Linked DNA regions of Homo sapiens. The protein of the gene in region 1 purifies or fractionates together with the protein of each later gene. This does not show direct contact. Each region holds a gene or a part of one and is shown on either strand. Other genes may lie near its edges.

Region 1 (10,377 bases):
TGAAGAACCATCTATTTAAAATTCAATGATTCTTTCAGTGTAGAGTTGCCAGATAAAATATAGGACATCCAGTTACATTTTAATTTTAGAAAAACAATGACTAATTTTTTAGTATAAATATGTCCAAAATATTGCATGGGGCATACTTTTTAAAAAGCGTAATTTTTGTTTATTTCTTTCTTTTGAGACAGGTTCTCACTCTGTCACTCAGGCTGCAGTGCAGTTGCGCGATCATGGCTCACTGCAGCCCCAACCTCCCAGGCTCAAGCAATCCTCCCATCTCAGCCTCCTGAGTAGCTGGGACTACAGGTGCATACCACCATACCCAGCTAGTTTTTTCATGTTTTGTAGGCCAGGGGTCCCTCTATCTTGCTCAGGCTGGCCTCAAACTCCTGGCCTTAACCAGTTCTCCTGCCTTGGCCTCCCAAAGTGCTAGAATTAAATGAATGAGGCACCATAGCAGGCCCAAAATGTTTAGTTTATTTTACTCGTATTTATTAAATCTGACAACTCTATCTCAGTGTCATTCAGGGATCTTTGTAAACATTAGCTATAGTACACAAGATGTAAAGTGCTTTCCTTTCACACAAATGAAAGATATAACAGGAAAATGTGGTTGTAATTGAAAAATTATAGGACTTTGAATTAAGACTTGGGTTCTAAGTTCTGGTTTCGACTTGACTTCTTAGTAAATGTATGGCTTTAGATAAGTCACTTAACCTAAGTATCAGGTTCCTCACACTGTATAAAATGTTTGGGTTTATTTGTTTGTTTTTGAGCATCAACTATATTCCAGGAACTTTACATGCATGATTTCAGTTAATCCTTACAATGACCTCATGAGGAAGGTCTTATTATCCCTATTGTCAAGACAGGTACCTGTGGCTTGGTTGAAGCTCTGTGAAAGCACGGACCATCTCTTTCTTGTTCACTGCTGTGTCCTTTGTGTCTAGCATGGTAAACCTAGGAGGTACTCAATACATATCAAATGTATGAAAGAAGACCCAAACTCACATAGCTAAATTAAGGGACAGAGCCATGATTTGAACCCAAATCATTTTGATTTCAAAATCTTCATTTTGTTCTTTTAATTAAATTTTTATTGATGTATACTTTACATATAGTAAAATGCACAATTTTAAACCCATGACTCTATAGACGTTTACCTGTGTACATATTCCATGTAACCACTATGGGATCAAGATATAGAACATTTCCATCTTCCTGAAAGTTCCTTCAAGCTCCTCCCCAGTCTATGCCCCCAGAGTTAACCTCTATTCTGACTTCTATCACCAAAGCTGCCGCTCTTAAGTACTAGGTTTCTCCTCTCCTGGGTTGTGTCAGATGATATGCAAAGTATTCCTGAAAGTGTTTTTGCAAACTCAGGCTGCATCTGAGTGCTGTTGGCGTTTAGAATAGGTCTTCATGGGCCGGGCGCGGTGGCTTACGCCTGTAATCCCAGCGCTCTGGGAGGCCAAGGCGGGTGGATCACATGGTCAGGAGTTCCAGACCAGCCTGGCCAATATGGTGAAACCCTGTCTCTACTAAAACTACAAAAATTAGCAGGGCGTGGGGCGGGCGCCTGTACTCCCAGCTACTCGGGAGGCTGAGGCAGGAGAATTGCTTGAAACGTGGAGGTTGCAGTGAGCACAGATTGTGCCACTGCACTCCAGCCTGGGCCATAGAGCGAGACTCGGTCTCAAAAAAAAAAAAAAAAAATAGAATAGGTCTTTAGGCCAGCCGCTCATCACCAATACAAAAGTGAGATTCAGCAGGGTGCAGTGGCTCACACCTGTAATCCCAACACTTTGGGAGGCCGAGAGGGAGGATGACTTGAGCCCAGGAGTTTGAGACCAGCCTGGGCAACATGGTGAAACCCTGTCTCTACAAAAATTACCCAAAAAAGCCCGGCATGGTAGCACATGCCTGTAGTCCCAGCTACTCAGGAGGCAGAGGTGGGAGGATCACTTAAGCCCAGAAGGTCAAGGCTTGATCGCCTTGACAGAGTGAGACTGTCTCTAAAAAAATTAATTTTTAAAAATCAAAATTTTGAGGCTATATTATGCCCTGCATTTGTCAAAATGGAAGGGTTTTACTCAAGATTGCCTTCTGATCCTACTTTCTGATTCTCTGCAGTAATCTTGTCCTTAAAAAAAAAAAAAAAAAAAACTACATGTTTTCTTTATCATAGACCCTCTGGTTCTCTCTCCTGGGATATTCCTGAGCCCATTGCTTAGACACTTTTTAATCACCACTTCATTACCCAAAACGTATCTGGCTTCATCCTATAAAGCAGTCTGAAATACTAAGAAAAATACCAGATTAAAATAAAACCAAATTGATATCTCAAAAAAATTCCTCCACTATTGACTATGGTATTGAATTTACTCTTTCTTCTTTTTTTTTCTTCATTCAACAGGTATTTGCTGAGCACCAAATGCTGCCCCCTCCAGTTTGCTGTTTGAGTGGAATTGCTCATTGCCCTGTCTTGGCTGTCCTGTAAACCACAAGGCCTACTCATATGTTCTAGGAAACACACATCGTTCTTTAGTACTGGCCACACTTTAAACTATACCTTTCTTCCCTTACAGTAAGGGGTAACCCACTGTACACCAAATTTTAACAGCCAGTGAGCTTAAAGATCTATCTGACAGAAATCAGATGGCCTCCACTGTAGCAGATTTTCAATTTATCTCCTGGTCAAACTTTGGTGCTCACCTCTGAAGGGTTACAGGCTTTTACACCAATCAGGTACCCCCTGATTTGGAAGGGAACCTCTTATCCCAGAAGACAGTATCACTCGTGGTTACAATAGCATTTTGGGCATCAGGCCGCACAGGTTCAGTGAGTCTGGCCATGCCACATAATCTCTGTGGGACAAGCAAATTAACTGGCCTCAATTGTCTCATTTGTAAAATAGGAATATAGTACACATATTACAGTGTGTCCAGAATTGGTGGGTTCTTGGTCTCACTGACTTCAAGAATGAAGCCGCAGACCCTCATGGTGAGTGTTACAGTTCTTAAAGACGTCGTGTCCGGAGTTTGTTCCTTCTGATGTTCGCATGTGTTCGGAGTTTTTTCCTTCTGGGGGGTTCGTGGGCTCGCTGGCTCAGGAGTGAAGCTACAGGCCTTCCAGGTGAGTGTTACAGCTCTTAAGGTGGCACGTCTGGAGTTATTTGTTTCTCCCAGTGGGTTCGTGGTTTCAATGACTTCAGGAGTGAACCTGCAGACCTTCCCAGTGAGTGTTGCAGCTCATAAAAGCAGTGTGGACCCAAAAAGCAGTAGCAAGATTGATAGCAAAGAGCAGAACAACACAACTCCCACAGTGTGGAAGGCAACCCGAGCGGGATGCCACTGCTGGTTCAGGCAGCCTGCTTTTATTCGCTTATCTGGCCCCACCCACATCCTGCTGATTGGTCCATTTTACAGAGAGCCGATTGGTCTGTTTTACAGACAGCTGATTGGTCCGTTTTGACAGGGTGCTGATTGGGGCGTTTACAATCCCTGAGCTGGACACAAAAGTTCTCCACGTCCCCACTAGATTAGCTGGATACAGAGTGTCCATTGGTGTATTTACAAACCCTGAGCTAGACAGAGTGCTGATTGGTGCATTTACAAACCTTGAGCTAGATACAGAGTGCCAATTGGTGCATTCACAATCCCTTAGCTAGACATAAAGATTCTCCAAGTCCCCACTAGATACAGAGTGTGGATTGGTGCATCCACAAACCCTGAGCTAGACACAGGGTGCTGATTGGTGTGTTCACAAACCTTGAGCTAGACACAGAGTGCTGATTGGTGCACCCACAATCCCTTAGCTAGACACGAAGGTTCTCCAAGTCCCCACTAGACTCAGGAGCCCAGCTGGCCTCACTCAGTGGATCTTCCACTGGGCCGCAGGTGGAGCTGCCCGCCAGTCCCGCACCGTGCACCGGCACTCCTCAGCCCTTGGGCGGTCGATGGGACCAGGCACCTTGGAGCAGGGGGCTGCGCTCGTCAGGAAGGCTCAGGCCGCGCAGGAGCCCGAGGGAGGAGGGTTGGTGGGGCGGAGAGACTCGGGCATGGCTGGCTGCAGGTCCCGAGCCCTGCCCCACGGGGAGGCAGCTAAGGCCCGGTGAGAAATCGAGTGCAGCGCCGGTGGGCCAGCACTGCTGGGGGATCCGGCGCACCCTCCACAGCTGCTGGCCTGGGTGCTAAGTCTCTCACGCCTGGGGCCAGCAGGGCGGGCCGGCCGCTCCGAGTGTGGGGCCCGCCAGGCCCACGCCCACCTGGAACTCTAGCTGGCCCGCAAGCGCCGCGCGCAGCCCCGGTTCCCGCCCGTGCCTCTCCCTCCACACCTCCCCGAAAGCGGAGGGAGCCGGCTCCGGCCTCGGCCAGCCCAGAGAAGGACTTCCATGGTGCAGCGGCGGGCTGAAGGGCTCTTCAAGCGCGGCCAGAATGGGCGCCGAGGCCGAGGAGGCACCGAGAGTGAGCAAGGGCTGTGAGGGCTGCCAGCACGCTGTCACCTCTCAATAGGGTTGTGAGGATTAAATGAGATGATATGTGTAAAGGATTCAGCACATGGTAGGCACACAATAGATGTTACCTATTATGTAAAGCAAACATCTAAATAAGAAGTCACCAAGTCCTGAGCACCTGCCTCCCTACAAGAATCTTTCTTCATAAAATTAACTTGCTCCTCTATCAAAAATACTCATCAAACACTATATATTATCGTTTGTTTATTGCTCATATTCCCTAATAGGCCATGAGCTCCCTAAGCACAAGGATTTTGTCTACCTTACTCTCTACTCTCCACAAAATCAAGTGCATAAAAAACACTCATTAAACACTTAATACACAAGTCACTGAATACATCTTTTGGCTAAAGTCCACTACCCACTTGAGGTACTGCCACTCACCTCTAAACCAACATTTTTCCCTAAGCTTGGTTATCTTAATCATCTAATTAATATGATTCTTCTTAAATTTTCATAGTATTAGGATCTATATTGGAGGGAAAGGAATAAGAATGAACATTTGTTGGGTATCCATTATTTGACAGACTTTATGTCTTCATTTCTAATTTCATACAGTCTTATAAAGTGGGAATTGGAATAACCCACTTTGCCTGTGAGTAAACTAAAGTTCTAGTTACAACCATTGAGAATCCCTATTTCTTTCCATCACAGCGTTTATCTCAGTTTGCAATTACACACTCAAGTGTGATTATTCGTCTAATGCTTTCACCAGACTGTAATCTCAAAGATAGCAGAAAAGGGTCTGCATTTGCTCATAACAGCGCCTAACAAGCAGGCATATAATAAGTATAGGGCTACATAGTAGGTATGTAATAAACATTCAGTGAATAAATGAGTGGAGTGAGCATAGGGGTAGATGTCAAAGAAATCTGGCTTCTTGTAGTGTTTAAATTCCGCAGGCACCATTTTTTCTTAGTAGGCAATATTCGCAAGGAGAAGAACTAGACCCCATGGAGTCTGAGGCGTTTCCAACACTAATAAAAGAGTACCTGATTAATATAGCTATGGCTGTGATTAATAGAGTGCATTTACTATTGTGTGAGCAAATCCCATTCCCTGTGACAAATGTATTCTATACATGAAATGAACAGTACAACATTTTACAGGCTTCACGGTCAACAGTTACATTCCGGGAAATTTTTGACGTTGAACGAATATTCCAAGAATAAATAACTCAAGAAGAACCTGTGACTATATCTCCAGAAACCTTTTGCCGCTTGTCAGTGAAACTAATAGAGTACAGAGCCTATTTAAATGTAAATTTAAATACAACATTTTCTCCACCTTTCTGCTCTCTTTGTTCCTTGTGGTCCGGAGGTTACAGGACTATATATATTCTCCAATACACACGTGTATAGGGATTTGGGGTTTTTGCTTTCAGTTTTATGCAAGACTAAATCAAGGTATTTGGGGATTTGAATGTTCTGTTCCCACAGTTAGGGAGGAGGGAATGTGCTCTGAAAACAGAAAAAAAGTACTCTGGGGCGGGGGCTGAGGCGACCACCGTGGGGCCCATCCTCAGCCTAGGACGCTGTTGCTAGGCAACTCCCTGCGTTCTCAACTCCCGCCCGAGAGCCACTTCCCGGGCCCTCATTGCCAAGGAGATCGACGCCCCAACTCAGCCCTGCCGTAAACACGCGCGGTCTTGCGACAGTGCCGCGCCTGCCGCTACGTGCGCGCCCTCTGCCCCCATCTCCACTCTCCGCCCGGCCGCCATTGCCTCGTGCCCGCGCCGGTCGGTTGGTGGCGCCTTTGTCCTACGGCGGGCAGGTGGGCCGACGCGGAGGCGGCAGCGGCGGGCCTGAGGCGAAGGAGCGGCCGGGAGCCCGCCGCGCTGGTAGCGGTGAGTGCCGGGAAGCGCTGGCCGTCAGCCGAGGCGTGGGGCTGACGGGCAGGCCGTTGTGGGGGGCCTGGCCGGACGGGGAGGCTGAGGCGGGAAGGCCCACTCGACGCGCGGCCACGGTCTCGGCTCCTCTCCGGGTGCGCGCGGTGCTGCGCATGCCCGGTGCGGGGCGCGGCCGCCTCCGGCTCCCGTCAGGCCCAGGCCCGGCCGGCCGAGGCGGCCTACGGTTCTCTGTGGTGGACGCAGGTCGGCGGCGTCGCATCGCAGCCGCCTGTCTGTGCACGAACGGTCGGTCACTAGGAGTCCTCAAGGCTTCTCTGGTTGAGCCGCACATCCCGCACCCCCTGTCGAAACGGTGGAGTCGCTCGCCCGCGGGTCCTCAGCGAGTCAGTGGCGCAGTCGGGATTCGAACCGGGCCCAAGGCGTCCCGTGGCACCGGGCGTTCTCCAGGCGTGCAGCGCCGAGCGGTGTACTGAGCGCTGTCCCCCGCCACCGTCTCGCGGCCCCTGACCGCATTCTCGGGGTGTCTCCTTGTGGTGTGACACCCCACGCGTTTTGTAGGCGCGGACCTCGGGCCCAGAGAACGGGGAGAGGAACTGTTCCCGGGTTTACCACGTAGCTCAGCGCCAGCGTCCGATCCGGCCGGCTTTCCAAGCTCCCGGCGCGGGGCACTGTCCGCTCCCCGCCAGCGGGCGAGGGGCTTCTCTTAGGACGGCGTTGCACACGTTTCAGTCTCGCGTTGCACCTTTATGTCCGTGGACCATCTGTACTGCTATTTACCAAATGTTACATTTTTTAAAAAATTCAAACTGACTCTTTTTTTCTCCTTAAATATATTTAAGGCGGCAACTTCAATCACAAACCGGGTACTGGAAAGCCAGTTATTTTTCTAATGCTTATAAAAAAAATAAATATCTGTCTGTTGAAATAAACAGTGCGTCCTTGTTCCTCCTGAAATTATTCTGCGTTCCACACTTTGGGAAACGCTGCCCGAGGAGTAGCTGATTAATTGTGGTTCTTCTGGCTTGCACTCTGTGCACAGAATTTTTCCTGAGGCAAAGCAGATTCTATGAATGCCCTGGGCTCTTCAGGGATAATGTAACAGCTTTCTTGTAAACTGTTCTCTTTGTTGACTTAAAAGTGTTAGTCCCAGGGAACTGCAAGAACTGTGTTCACTCAGGTGCACCCGGTGTGCCTGAATTTTCTTACAGCGTTGTGATGTCGTAGCCCCCTGTTGGCTCATAAAAAGATGTTTCTACAAATGCTGGGGAAGCTTTTGTGAGTTTTGACAACTCTTAATTTAATGTTTTCTCTATGAGTCAGTCTGGGTGTGAAAACTAACTTTGTGTCTACTTTTTGCAACCAGTAAAGCCCATGCTTTGCATTGTGGATATTAGAAATCACTTGGCTATTTGTTAACATCCATTTCTTCCTTTATTGTGATTTCTTTGCCTTTCTTTGAGCTCATCTGTCACTCTTCAGATTGCCTTTGAAACCTCTGACACTTCTCTTAACCTAAAACTTAGAAACACTGATTTTCCTTGTAGAATGTCCCAGCGAATCCATATTGCAAGGCTCATTGGAAGGAGTTTTTCTAGATTCAGTTTGCTCAATGTTGCATACCTGTGAACACCACAAGTTTAAAGGAGGCATTGACAGATTAACTTACTTGTAAGTTAATAGTGTGTTCATAAGATCTGTTTATGTGAATGTAAGAGCAGATTTAATTTAAATCATTGACAGGAAAGTCCCATAAGTCAGTTCAGGCTTATTCAAGTTTTCTTCCCCTCCCCTCAAAGGCTGTGTAAAAAAATATATATATATGTATATGTATATATATGTGTGTGTGTGTATGTATCTCTCCCCCTGTTAAAAACATGTTTCTTTGGGGTTACCTTGGTATGATCACAATGTAGAATTTACGTAAGGCTAAGGTCATTTTCTTCACATTTCTGAGAATTTGATTTAAGCCCGGCGTCCGTTTCAGAACTTCAGCAAATGGAAACTCATCTACCAGTGCTTGAGAGCTAAGAAAAAACAACTTGTTTGTTTTGGTTTTGTTTTTGTTTTTTCTGAGACAGAGCTTCACTCTTGTTGCCCAGGCTGGAGTGCAGTGGTGCGATCTTGGCCCCCGGGTTCAAGCAATTCTCCTGCCTCAGTCTCCTAAGTAGCTGGGATTACAGGCGTGCGCCACCACGCCCGGCTAATTTTGTATATTTTTAGTGGAGACGGGGTTTCTCCATGTTGGTCAGGCTAGTCTCGAACTCCCAACCTCAGGTGATCTGCCCGCCTCTGCCTCCGAAAGTGCTGGGATTACAGGCATGAGCCACCGCGTCCAACCAGAATAAACAATTTTTGGAAAGACTTTCGTAGTCTGATGAGAAAAGATTTATTGGTTTGAAACTTCATTTTAAATAATCATTGCAAGCAGTCCATGTTTATGACCTGCAGATGGCAGTGCCTTTGTGTAATGTTTTACTACTGTGAGGATTAATAAAATTTAGTTGTGCTTTTAAGAATGGAAAATCTTCACAAGAAATATATTAAACTTTTTCTTCCCTTCAGTTTAGGTTGTTCTCTTGTTTTTGACTCCCCACGTGAAGAATGAAACGTCTATTCCTGAAGTCACTGTTACTCTTAGTGTAGTAATGATAATAACATACAGCCAGTAGTGCATATGGTAAATACTAAATCATTGCTCCTGCCCGTCATCTTATGAGACTGATAAACTAGTTTGATCTTTTTTATTTATAGGGAAATGATGACTCAAAGAGGTTAGATTTCTTGCCCCAGATCACATAATTAGTAGAACATATTCAAGACATCATTGGAGATAATTGATTTCAGGGTCAAGCAAAATTGGGAAATGTTGAGATATAGTGGTGTCCTTACTCCAAAACTTCTCAGAGGCATTTATGTGCTAAATATGTGCAATGTCAATATCTGAGAGAGGAAGTTATCATGATGCCTTTCTCCTGCTATCCTCTCATGAATATTTTGAAGTAATAGTGTTCCTCAGAACTGACTACTCTTTCTACTACGCTGTATTTCCTCTCTGTACCTTGTGGTTTATTAATGATTACTGCATATCTTTAAGACAGCTGCTTTTAAAGCTCAATATCAGCTTTTTTGTGCAAAAATAGTTGTCCTGTGAATAGCACATATATTTGTTTAGACCATTCTGCTTAAGCAGAGTTAAACTGTCAAAAAGTTAAAAGAGCAATGACTAACAGAATTATCCTTTATGTTACTCTCATTAATGAGAGTCATTAATGACAGGATCAGGGTAAAGCCACTGTCTCAAGCAGCAGTACATTAGAGAAATATGAAGTATATTGACAGCTAAATATATAATACCAGCATGCATGCTGCTTTTTAAATGGTGGTTTTGTTACCACCAGATATGAATATTTATGGGAATGGTCATCTTCATTCTTTATCCTTTCACTTAAAAAAAGAGATAATAGGTCATCTGGACCAATTTTATGTTAAGGAAATAGTTCACCTCATAAGAATCAGAACTTTTCCAGACATCCTATGTAAAGACCAGACAACTTTAGGCAAGGATCAGGGCAGCTTAAGTTGCATTAGAAAACAGAGTGTCTTGTCTTATACCTTTAGCTCTGTAAAGTATCTTAAGGCTGGGTACAGTGGCTCACACCTGTAATCCCAGCGTTTGGGGAGGCTGAAGTGGGAAGATCCCTTTTGATAGAAGTTTGAGACCAACCTGGGCAACATGGTGAGATCCTGTCTCTACAAAAAAAATTAGCCAGGGTGGTGGTGCATGCACCTGTATTCCTAGCTACATGGGAGCCCTTTATTGAAAGTAAAATCATGACTTTTTCAATTTTTTTCTCCTTCAGTGTCAAACCAATGGTCTTTGAAGAATGTTACTAAAATGGGCAATATTTTGAATGTCTTACATTTAAATACTCCCTCACCGCATTTGGGGATAATATACATAAAGTTTCGTTAATTTGGCTTCATTGAGACTCTGTGGTAGTTCAGTTTA
Region 2 (9,622 bases), on another chromosome or scaffold:
GATGTTTCAAAAATATTTTGAGTGGTGAGAACCTCTTGTACCGTCATTTTCTTCATGTCTGAGACCTGGCGCTAGGTGGACTCTAAAATTCTTTTCCTGGCGGGAGTGCAATAAAGTGAGTATTTGCAATACAAGGAAGAGTAGAAATATCACAGGTAAAGCATAGGAGGACAGTACAATTTCTTGGAATTCCTTTATTTGAGCAAATCTATGCTGTAACAATTACCAGCAAAAGGACTACAGGTGGTGAAGGCAGTTTTTACAGTGGAGAAATGCAGACATGGAGCCTGATAATTCTTTACAATTATCACATCAGCTTTGGATTATAACCGGGTGTGTCCATCAGGGTTCCTTGCTGCAGGTAACAGAAACCATCTGTGGGTTACCTGAGCAGAAAATGAATGACTTAGAAAGAAAGAAATGAGGATATGGAACAAATTGATGCAGAAACTTCAGAATAAGACTTGTAAAATGGGCTAGAGTCCAAGGACCAAAAAGATAGCCAGGTCACTCTGTCTGAGCATTCAGGTGAGAATGGCACTGCTTGATCCCACTACTTTAGGTATCTGAGGCCACCTCTGATGGAGCCTCTATGCAGCTGCCTCCTCTGGACTCTGATATGGCTCTTGTGGGATTTCTCAACTGTGCATACATCTAGTTACTCTTCCAAGGTCAAATTTGCAGGTTCAAGAAACTGATTGAGAAAGCCTGGTCATTGTCAGAGCCTGTACTGATAAGGACAGTAAGAGAGAGGATCTGGCTCCTTAACTTCTGAAGGAGGCAGAATTCTCTTTCACACCAAGACTCTCACTATGAGGAATCAGCCACACACAACATAGATTTGGATGACTGTGGACAACAACCCAGCAAAAAGAAAAACTGAGACCAATACAAAGACAGGAATAATCTGTTTTTGCAGAATTAATTGTGGGGAAAGCAGTAAACTCAAAAGTTGTACGATAGTTATATAGGTATGTCATTTATGTTATTATTTATATAATAAGCACTTATATAACACATAGGATGTGTGGGTCACTCTTCTAAGTGCTATAAAAATATTAGCTTGTCCAATGTTCACATTAATGTATTGCCATCATTATCTCTATTTTATGGATGGGTAAACTGAAGCCCAAAGAAGTTACATAACTTAACCAAAATTACACTGCTGCTAAGCAATAGGAGAAAGATTTGAAGCCAGGAGACCTGGGGCTCCAGAGCCAGTATTCTAACTACTATACTACACTGCTCTTTGCTATAGAAGTTTTTATTTGTAGTTATACTTAAGAAAATGTTCAGTAAGCAATTTATAATTTATTTCATTAGGTGGATTCTGTCCTTTGACTTATTTTCATTTTGTTTATATAAAATCTTGAATGAATAGAGCCTTATAACATATTTTAGAGAGAAGTCACTCAGTAGGGCAGTATAACTAACAGTTGCCATCAAGAAACACGTCCAGAGTTGAAAGACCAGACAAATGGCAGATGTTGGATATATACTGAAAGGAATATAAGTCATTCTCCCATAAAGACACATGCAAGTGGATGGTCATTTCAGCACTATTTGCAATAGCAAAGCCATGGAATCAACCTAAATCTCCATCAGTGGTCTATTAATGGATAAAGAAAATGTGTTACATATACAACCTGGAATACCATGCAGCTATAAAAAAGAATGACAGGCCAGGTGCTGTGGCTCAGGCCTGTAATCCCAGCACTTTGGAAAGCCGAGGCGGGCAGATCACGAGGTCAGGAGTTCGAGACCAGCCTGACCAACATGGTGAAACCCCGTCTCTATTAAAAATACAAAAATTAGCCAGGTGTGGTGGCACACCCTGTAATCCCAGCTACTCAGGAGGCTGAGTCAGGAGAATCGCTTGAACCTGGGAGGCAGAGATTGCAGTGAGCCGAGATCGCACCACTGCACTCTAGCCTGGATGACAGAGCAAGACTCTGTCTCAAAAAAAAAAAAAAAAAAAAAAAAAAGAATGAGATCATGTTCTTTGTAGCAACATGAATGGAGCTGGAGGCCATTACCCTAAGAAGACTAACACAGGAATAGAAAACCAAATACTGCATATTCTCACTTATAAGACGGAGCTGAACATCGAGTACATATGGACACAAACAACAACAAAACAACAGGCACTGGGGCCGACTTAAGGGTGGAGGATGGGGGATGGGGAAGGATCAAAAAACTACCTATTGAGTACTATGCTTATTACCTGGGTAATGAAATAATCTGTACATCAACCCTAGGACATGCAATTTACCTTTGTAACAAACCTGCACATGCACCCTGAACCTAAAATAAAAGGTAAAAAATATAGCAGATGTTACAGGACAGTTCAAGAAAACACTCCACACTCTTATGTCCCAGGGGATTCCTACTTTAAGAAACGTTTCCAACTCCTTTTGTAAATAATTCTTTATTCGTATCCCCTTATGTGACCATTCAGTGATTTGTCTTTTAGTTCAATTCAACTAATATTTATTGAGTACTTAGCACAGTTTGGGCACTGTGCTTAAGACATACAAAGAAGAAATAAACTTGGCCTCTGCCCTGGAATTTCTGACAGCCTAATAGCAAAAACATGGAATCAACCTAAATGCCCATCAATGGTAGACTGAAGGGGAGGTGGACTGATTTATAAAAGTAAAGCCTTTTCCTGAAGTGAGACAACAGACTGCTATCATACCGTTTTATGATAGTCTTGGGGAAATAAAAAAAAAAATCCAGACTGCTATTAGAGTTTATCAATAAATTTTCATTAAAAGGCAAGATCTCTGATCCTTCTCAAGAGACTATTTGATTTTGATCACATTATTTTATTTAGAAAAAGGAGAGATTTGGGGTGGCTGAAGTATAGTTGTGATACTTAGAAACACCTGTTATTTAAGAGAAAAATCATCGTGTTTCCTTTGGCAGCACATTTACAAACACTGGAATGTTACAGAGATCAGTGTGGCCTCTGAGCAAGGATGACATGCAAATTCTTGAAGTGTTTCAGATTAAAAAGACAGAGAGAGAAACACTGTCATTACTTTTTAAACTCATTTAAAATCTGAAAACTGGGACCTTCCTTTCTTACCGTCTTATCTCACTGACCCTGATCCACAGACGCAAGGGAAGCTAAGCATATGATCACTCGTGGGGTAACTGTCATTTTTCTTTATCTCACATCTTGAGCACATTTGAGTGCCGTGCCCAGCACTCCAAGGATTTCTGTCAGCATGTATTTATTGGCCTTTTATTAGAAACTTTCTTACCTCATGTCTGCTCTCATGAATATAGATCAGAAATTAGAAACAAAAAATATTTATCTGGTAAGCAATTTCTTTGGTAACTGAACTAATAGGAACTACTGGGACTTCCTGGAAGTGAGGCTACCTTTTCCATTAGAGTTTATGCTTCCTCTTTTGTAGACTTCACACATTGCTCAAATATTTGTGGCGTGCATTCCAACTACAAGGTGCAATTGAGGGACGAGAAAAGGGAAAACTTAGTTGGGCAGACAGCTAAAGTTGGTCTTTGGTAAAATTCTTTTAAACAGAAAGACAGCCTGAAAAATCAAGCTACAGGCACACATAGAGTGGCCTGGGGAAAACTCAGGCAACAGCTGCCCTGATAAGAAAGGAAGGCCCAACATAGAAGCCTTTTGTTCTTTGTGTGATTAGCAGGTTCCCAGGAAAAAGTTTCTTCCCCTTTTCAGGCACATACATGGTGGGCTCTGTGGGAACTTGCATGGGGGTGGAGAGGGTGATTACCTAGAACCCACAGTTACACAAACAAGAGAAGCTGAACTTTATCCTTACCCAAGACATACCCACAGCTGCACAGATAAGGGGAGCTGCACAGATAGCTTTACAAGTAAGTTACACAAACAGCTACAGAGATGAGAGGAGTTTCTTATAAAAGCTTTTGGATTCAACTGTAAAAGTGGCAAAATGGCAAAGAAAGAAAGCTTTCTTCTTTCATATAATAAACTTTCTCTTCAACCTCACTCTGGTGTCCACACTCCTTAATTCTCTTGGTTGTGAGACAACAAGCTTGGATAACACCTCAGACAACGAGACCACTGACCACTGACCCGTTTCACAATGACGTACTACAGGATGGTGTATGCTGGGTATTCATACATCGTCATGCAACTTCCTAGTTTTATGTGTAAGGTAGTTTCCTCTGTCATCACCTTGGTATTTCCCATCTAGTCACGGTATTAAGTGGGTCTTATGCGCTTGTTAAGAGCTGGTAAGAGAAGCTTAACATTCACTTGATGGAATGGTTACTGTGGCTTGTATCCACAGGAGCTCCAGCTCATGCTTAAAATACTGTGTTAGAACAAATGGATCAGAGTGAATTCTGTAACAGTAAATCCACAGAACTGAAAATTACTGACTTGCATCATAAACTGGTTGCAGTGGCAAGGCAGAGAGTTCAGATTCGTGTTGTACTGGGGAAAGAAGAAACCAAAGAAAATAAGTGGTTCATACACAGGGGACTATTTAACTGATCCAAGCCAGAAGACTACTGAGGGTGAAAGGAGCATTATCAGTAATTATGTTTAGACAAAAGTTGTGACTGTCCTTAGTAAACCAGGATAGACGTAGAGTCAATTCAAAAAGAAAGAAAGAACAAACATATCTAATGTACATTAAGAACCCAGGGATATCGGGTTCTTAATGTGCATATTTATTGGATTGCCCAGAGCTTTGACCTTCAAGTATAATTGAGTTCTTGAAACTTAGATTTAGGTTTGTGGTTAAGGGGCAAAATAATCAGATTCCAAATAGGGTTCTGCAGACAAATCCCACAGGTCCTAAAGTCTCTGGGTCTTTTCCTTGCCATTGTGGTATCTCAGGGGCTTGTGTAGGCAATGATAACCAGTTCCATACTTCTGCTAAGAGAAATTTGGGGATCAGAAAATCTTTCTCTGCAGCTCTTCAGAGTCTCTTTAATTTACTTCAATAACAAGGAAATCAGAAATCTCAGGACAGTGCTGGATGTGGCAGAAATTCAGGGCAATTCACAACTTTCCTACCAATTTAGAGTTACCTGTCTGGAATCACTTCAACTGACAGTGGAAGATAGTTTATAAAATTGTAGGGGAGGCAAAATTTCACCTTCGTCCCTGTAGGGTCCCAGCATGGCCCTAGTATTAAATTGATTTAAGATATTAATAGACTGACAGGAGACAACCACACAAATGTTTATTTTACATAGCACGGGGGCCCTCATTAAAAAAAAAAAAGACCTAAAGCAGCAGTTAAGAGCCAATTGCTTATAGAGTGAAATGGACAAAAAATAGTAGTTGTGAAACATGATAAGGCGAAGGGGCTTGGGGTAAAGAAGCGACTAGAAAGATAGGGATTAACAAATTTTGTTTGGACAGATTTCCCTCGACTTCAACTTTCTGTCCTTGAAGATAACAATGTTATTTTATAGGGAAGACATCTTTCACATGGGAATTTCATCTCCTCCTTTTAAGACACATAATATCCATGACAGTGATCTTGCACCTGCTGTTTTTAAGTGCCTTTAATTTAAAATAGTCAATATGCCACAGCAGCATATTTTGAGGTGGTATATTATTAACTCCTTCAAGGCTAAAAGCTTTGAATATGCCGGGGTAGTTACCAGACTGGAGAACCTTCTCAGCTATTTGCCACTTGTGGAATGCATTCAAATGTACTGAGTGCTTATTAACTTTTCTCTCAGTCCCTCACTCTGCTGCTCTTCTCGCCTCATCTCACATAAGGGAAAACTCAGGCTCCAAAAGCAAAGTGATTCCACCAAGATGACAATGGAATCGGGACCTGGTGTCCAAGCCTGGTCCTCGCACGAGGTAGATACTCCCTGAGATGCTGGGGAAGAGCCATGGTAGGGCCACTCATGGCCCTCTTCCTTTGGCGGACCTTGGAATCCACCTTCCCTGCGTTAAAGTGCTCCACCAGGTGACGCCGGAAGAGAAGCCAGCAGTAAGTACATGTGAAATCCAGTAGCTGACCACAGACACGCGAGCGATAAGAAAAAGCTCGCTGCTTCTTTTCTCAACACTCCGCCAGCTGCGTCAGAGGCCCTTGACCCGCACTCAAAATGGCGGCGGCGGCGTCAGCATCAGCGGCCTCCTGCCCGTATCTATCGTGGCGGCGACGGGACCCGCCTCCCTGGGCGCCGGAGTCATGTGACCCACACAATGGCTGAGTGGCTACTCTCGGCTTCCTGGCAACGCCGAGCGAAAGCTATGACTGCGGCCGCGGGTTCGGCGGGCCGCGCCGCGGTGCCCTTGCTGCTGTGTGCGCTGCTGGCGCCCGGCGGCGCGTACGTGCTCGACGACTCCGACGGGCTGGGCCGGGAGTTCGACGGCATCGGCGCGGTCAGCGGCGGCGGGGTGAGCGGCAAGCTGCGGGGATACGCGGGGGGCGGCAAGAGCCCGCCCCGTGGGGCCAGCCCCACAAGCCCCCGCGGCGTTGCCCTGCGTTTCCACCGGCTCCACTCTCCGCCGCATTCCCCTAGGGTGCCAGTCAGCAGGCGGTTGGGGCGGGCCCGCTGCGGGGCTGGGGCGGGTGCTTTCTCGTTTAACACGAACCAGACAGGCAGTTAGGTTTGAACAAATGAGGATCCGGAGGTCCAGAGAGTATAGGTGCAGAGAGTAAAGTGACAGGTCTAAGTAGTGAAGTAGCCGGGGCTGGAACCCTCGTCCCAGGCAGTGGGGCACAGGCTGTCTTCATCGCGGAGATGGCAGTCGGGGAGCGTCGCTCCAGAAAGGGCCAGGGAGTGCGGGAGCGTCCGTGTGCGAAAGAGAACGCCCCAGTGGGATGCTTTGGCTGTGTCTCTCCCTTTTGGAGGAGTTGGTGGGTGGTGGAGTCGTTAAGTCCCGTGCAGTTGTTAGTGCAGGGTAAGAATGGGCTCCTCCAGAGAGGGTAGCGCCGAATAGGATTTCGTTTGGAGGCAGGACTGGTGCCTCAAGGTCTCTTTAAAAGGAAGATAAGCGAGCGGCCTGAAACTACCGGGTACTCCCTCTGGGCCCATGGGCTTCATGGTGGCCGACCTTTGGGTGAGAAGGTTTTTGTTTTTTGGTTTTGTATCCGAAATTACATCTAGGGCTAATGTTTCTTGAAAATGTTAAGGTTGAACTCGGATTTTTGGGGTTGAGTTGGATGGAGCTTGCATCCTTACATTCAACTCAGAACAAGCTTGAATGCCTGCTGCAAGGATGACCTGGTCTGTAGTGTGACCACAAGATATAACCTTCTGCTAGGGGAAATTTTTTTCCCCCTGGAGTTAGCTGATCCTTTTTGATTTTTATGTTTTCATTCCCTAATTTGCAATCTCTCCAGCCGTGCTGATGTGTATTTCAGGGGAAACCTGTGGGCCGATGAGTTAATGCATTTATTCTTTGCTACTACTATTCTCCTTTTTATGTTTTTGGGCTAAACCTGAAACAGCCAATATTTCATGGAGTGAGGCCCCATCTTTTTTATAGCTTTACTTGTGATACTATATCTAGGGTAAGAGCTTACCGAAAAATGGAAGTCTTTGTTTCCATTAGGTTTATTAAGCCCAGTTTAAAATTACTAAGATGAGAAGAATCATTTCGTAATTCAAAGTAGGAAACTCCTACCTAATCTGATAGAATATACAATTATTAGTATCCCTATATAGTTCATTACTCCTCATAGGAACTCACTAAATAATGAAAATTCTTGCAACATTATATTTGCATACCACTTTAAACTTCTTTGTGGAGTCCTTGGTTCCTAGCCCAGGTTGTGCCAGTAAGTGTTTAGAGTGCTGTCATTTAATCTTCATGTCAGAGAGGGAAAGCGGTATGGTACAGTAAGTAGTTAAGAATGTAGGGCCGGGCACGGTGGCTCACGCCTGTAATCCCAGCACTTCGGGCTTCCGAGGCGGGCGGATCACGAGGTCAGGAGATCAAGACTATCCTGGCTAACACGGTGAAACCCCGTCTCTACTAAAAATACAAAAAATTAGCCAGTCTTGGTAGCACGCGCCTGTAGTCCCAGCTACTCGGGAGGCTGAGGCAGGAGAATCGCTTGAACCCGGGAGGCGGAGGTTGCAGTGAGCCGGGATCACACCACTGCACTCCAGCCTGGGCGACAGAGTGAGACTCCGTTCAAAACACAAACAAACAAAAAAACCCAAAAACCAAACCAAAGCGAAACAAAACAAAAAGAATGTAGACTAAAGAGAAGATTGCCAAGAGTGTCTTCTGGGTTCTGCCACTTCACTGTGTGGCCTTGGTGGGTTATCTATTATAACTCCTCTCTGCCTCACTTTCTTTTTTTGGGATACAGTTATACCTGCATGGTAGGAGCGCCGTGAGGATAGACCTAAAGTACTTAGGATGATGTCTTGCACATTACTAATTTTGGTTAATAACCATTTTCAGGGATTAGGGAGGAGGAAGTTATTTCAAGGCCACTGAATGATGAAATGTCCCCAAGGCTTTTTCCTGGGCCTGTAAACAGTTCCAGGCCTCATTCAGGCAGTGTGGTTAGTAATCCCGTGATTTGCTATTGCTAGATGGTGCATTTTAACATTTGGTTATATTGCCTTTGACTTATGCTGTTGTGTTAGGTGTGGCTATAGGTTTGCAATAACATGATTGGTGTGTTTGCCTAAAGCCGATACTTTCTCTGTTAAATGTGGGAGTGCATAGAGGGCAAAAGAAACCCTAGACAGCAAAACGCACAGTATTAATGGCGTAGCGTAGGACAGGAAGCATTGTTTACCTAGGGTCAAGGATATATTAGTGTGCCTATACAGTGTTCATTTAAAGAGTGCCTATTTTAATATTGGAGCCTCTGCTAGGTTGTAAGCTCTTTGAGAAATATGTATTTTAAAAAATTTGTGTATATAACACTTGCCTTTATTGAGAACTTACTATGTGCCAGGTAATGTGCCAAGTCCTTTACATACATCTAATTTTAGTCTTACAGCAGTTGAATGAGTAAGATAGCCCACTTTACAATAATTTGCCTATGATTACATAGCTTATTAATGATGAAATCAGGATACAAACTCCATTTGACTCAAAGACTCCTATTTATGTTGCCAGTACCAGTGCAACAAAAGACCCATAAAATATTTAATAAGTGTTTATTGAATAACAAAGAATGAGGATACAAACTTGAATAAGATACAGTCCATGTCCTTAAGGAACTAAGAGGTGAGTCAGAAAAATAAAGGAGTGCCGGGGTTCAAAGTGTTGTAATAAAGATATGGACCTGGTGCCAAAGGAGAGGCGCTTACATCAAATCAGTGAGCAGGGCCAGAAGGCATCCTTCCTTCAAATTCCAGAGGTGGAATTTGAGCTGAAAGGTGAATTGGAGTTGTCCAAGAGAGGATGTGGGGTGCATTCCAGGCATAAGAATAGAAAACGTTGTTTGATACATCTAGGTAGAAGGTGTGAGAGTGATAAGGGATAAAGTATCAGGGTTAGGAGCCAAATAATTAAGGGATTTGGGTGCAAAATTGAGCGATTTGAACTTTATCCTGAAAGCTTTTGGGAAAGGGACGGTCTTAGCATGTTTACATGGAAGAGTTTCGTGATTACATTTGTATTTTGGGAAGGTTACTCTCGTAAGTAGCATGGAAG

Evidence for each region.
Region 2: the proteins of NCOA5 (region 1) and GALC purify together in Homo sapiens (affinity purification with mass spectrometry; 3 studies listed by BioGRID and IntAct, with this or other methods). This does not show direct contact.

The regions. Positions count from the first base shown.
Region 1 is NC_000020.11:46,085,805-46,096,181, reverse strand, and holds the start of NCOA5 (nuclear receptor coactivator 5), read left to right. Parts: upstream 1-6,219; 5' UTR 6,220-6,365; intron 6,366-10,377. UniProt on the Homo sapiens protein: Nuclear receptor coregulator that can have both coactivator and corepressor functions.
Region 2 is NC_000014.9:87,989,739-87,999,360, reverse strand, and holds the start of GALC (galactocerebrosidase isoform a precursor), read left to right. Parts: upstream 1-6,178; 5' UTR 6,179-6,196; coding exon 6,197-6,391; intron 6,392-6,506; exon of another isoform or gene 6,507-7,030; coding exon of another isoform or gene 7,031-7,057; exon of another isoform or gene 7,058-8,264; intron 8,265-9,622. UniProt on the Homo sapiens protein: Hydrolyzes the galactose ester bonds of glycolipids such as galactosylceramide and galactosylsphingosine.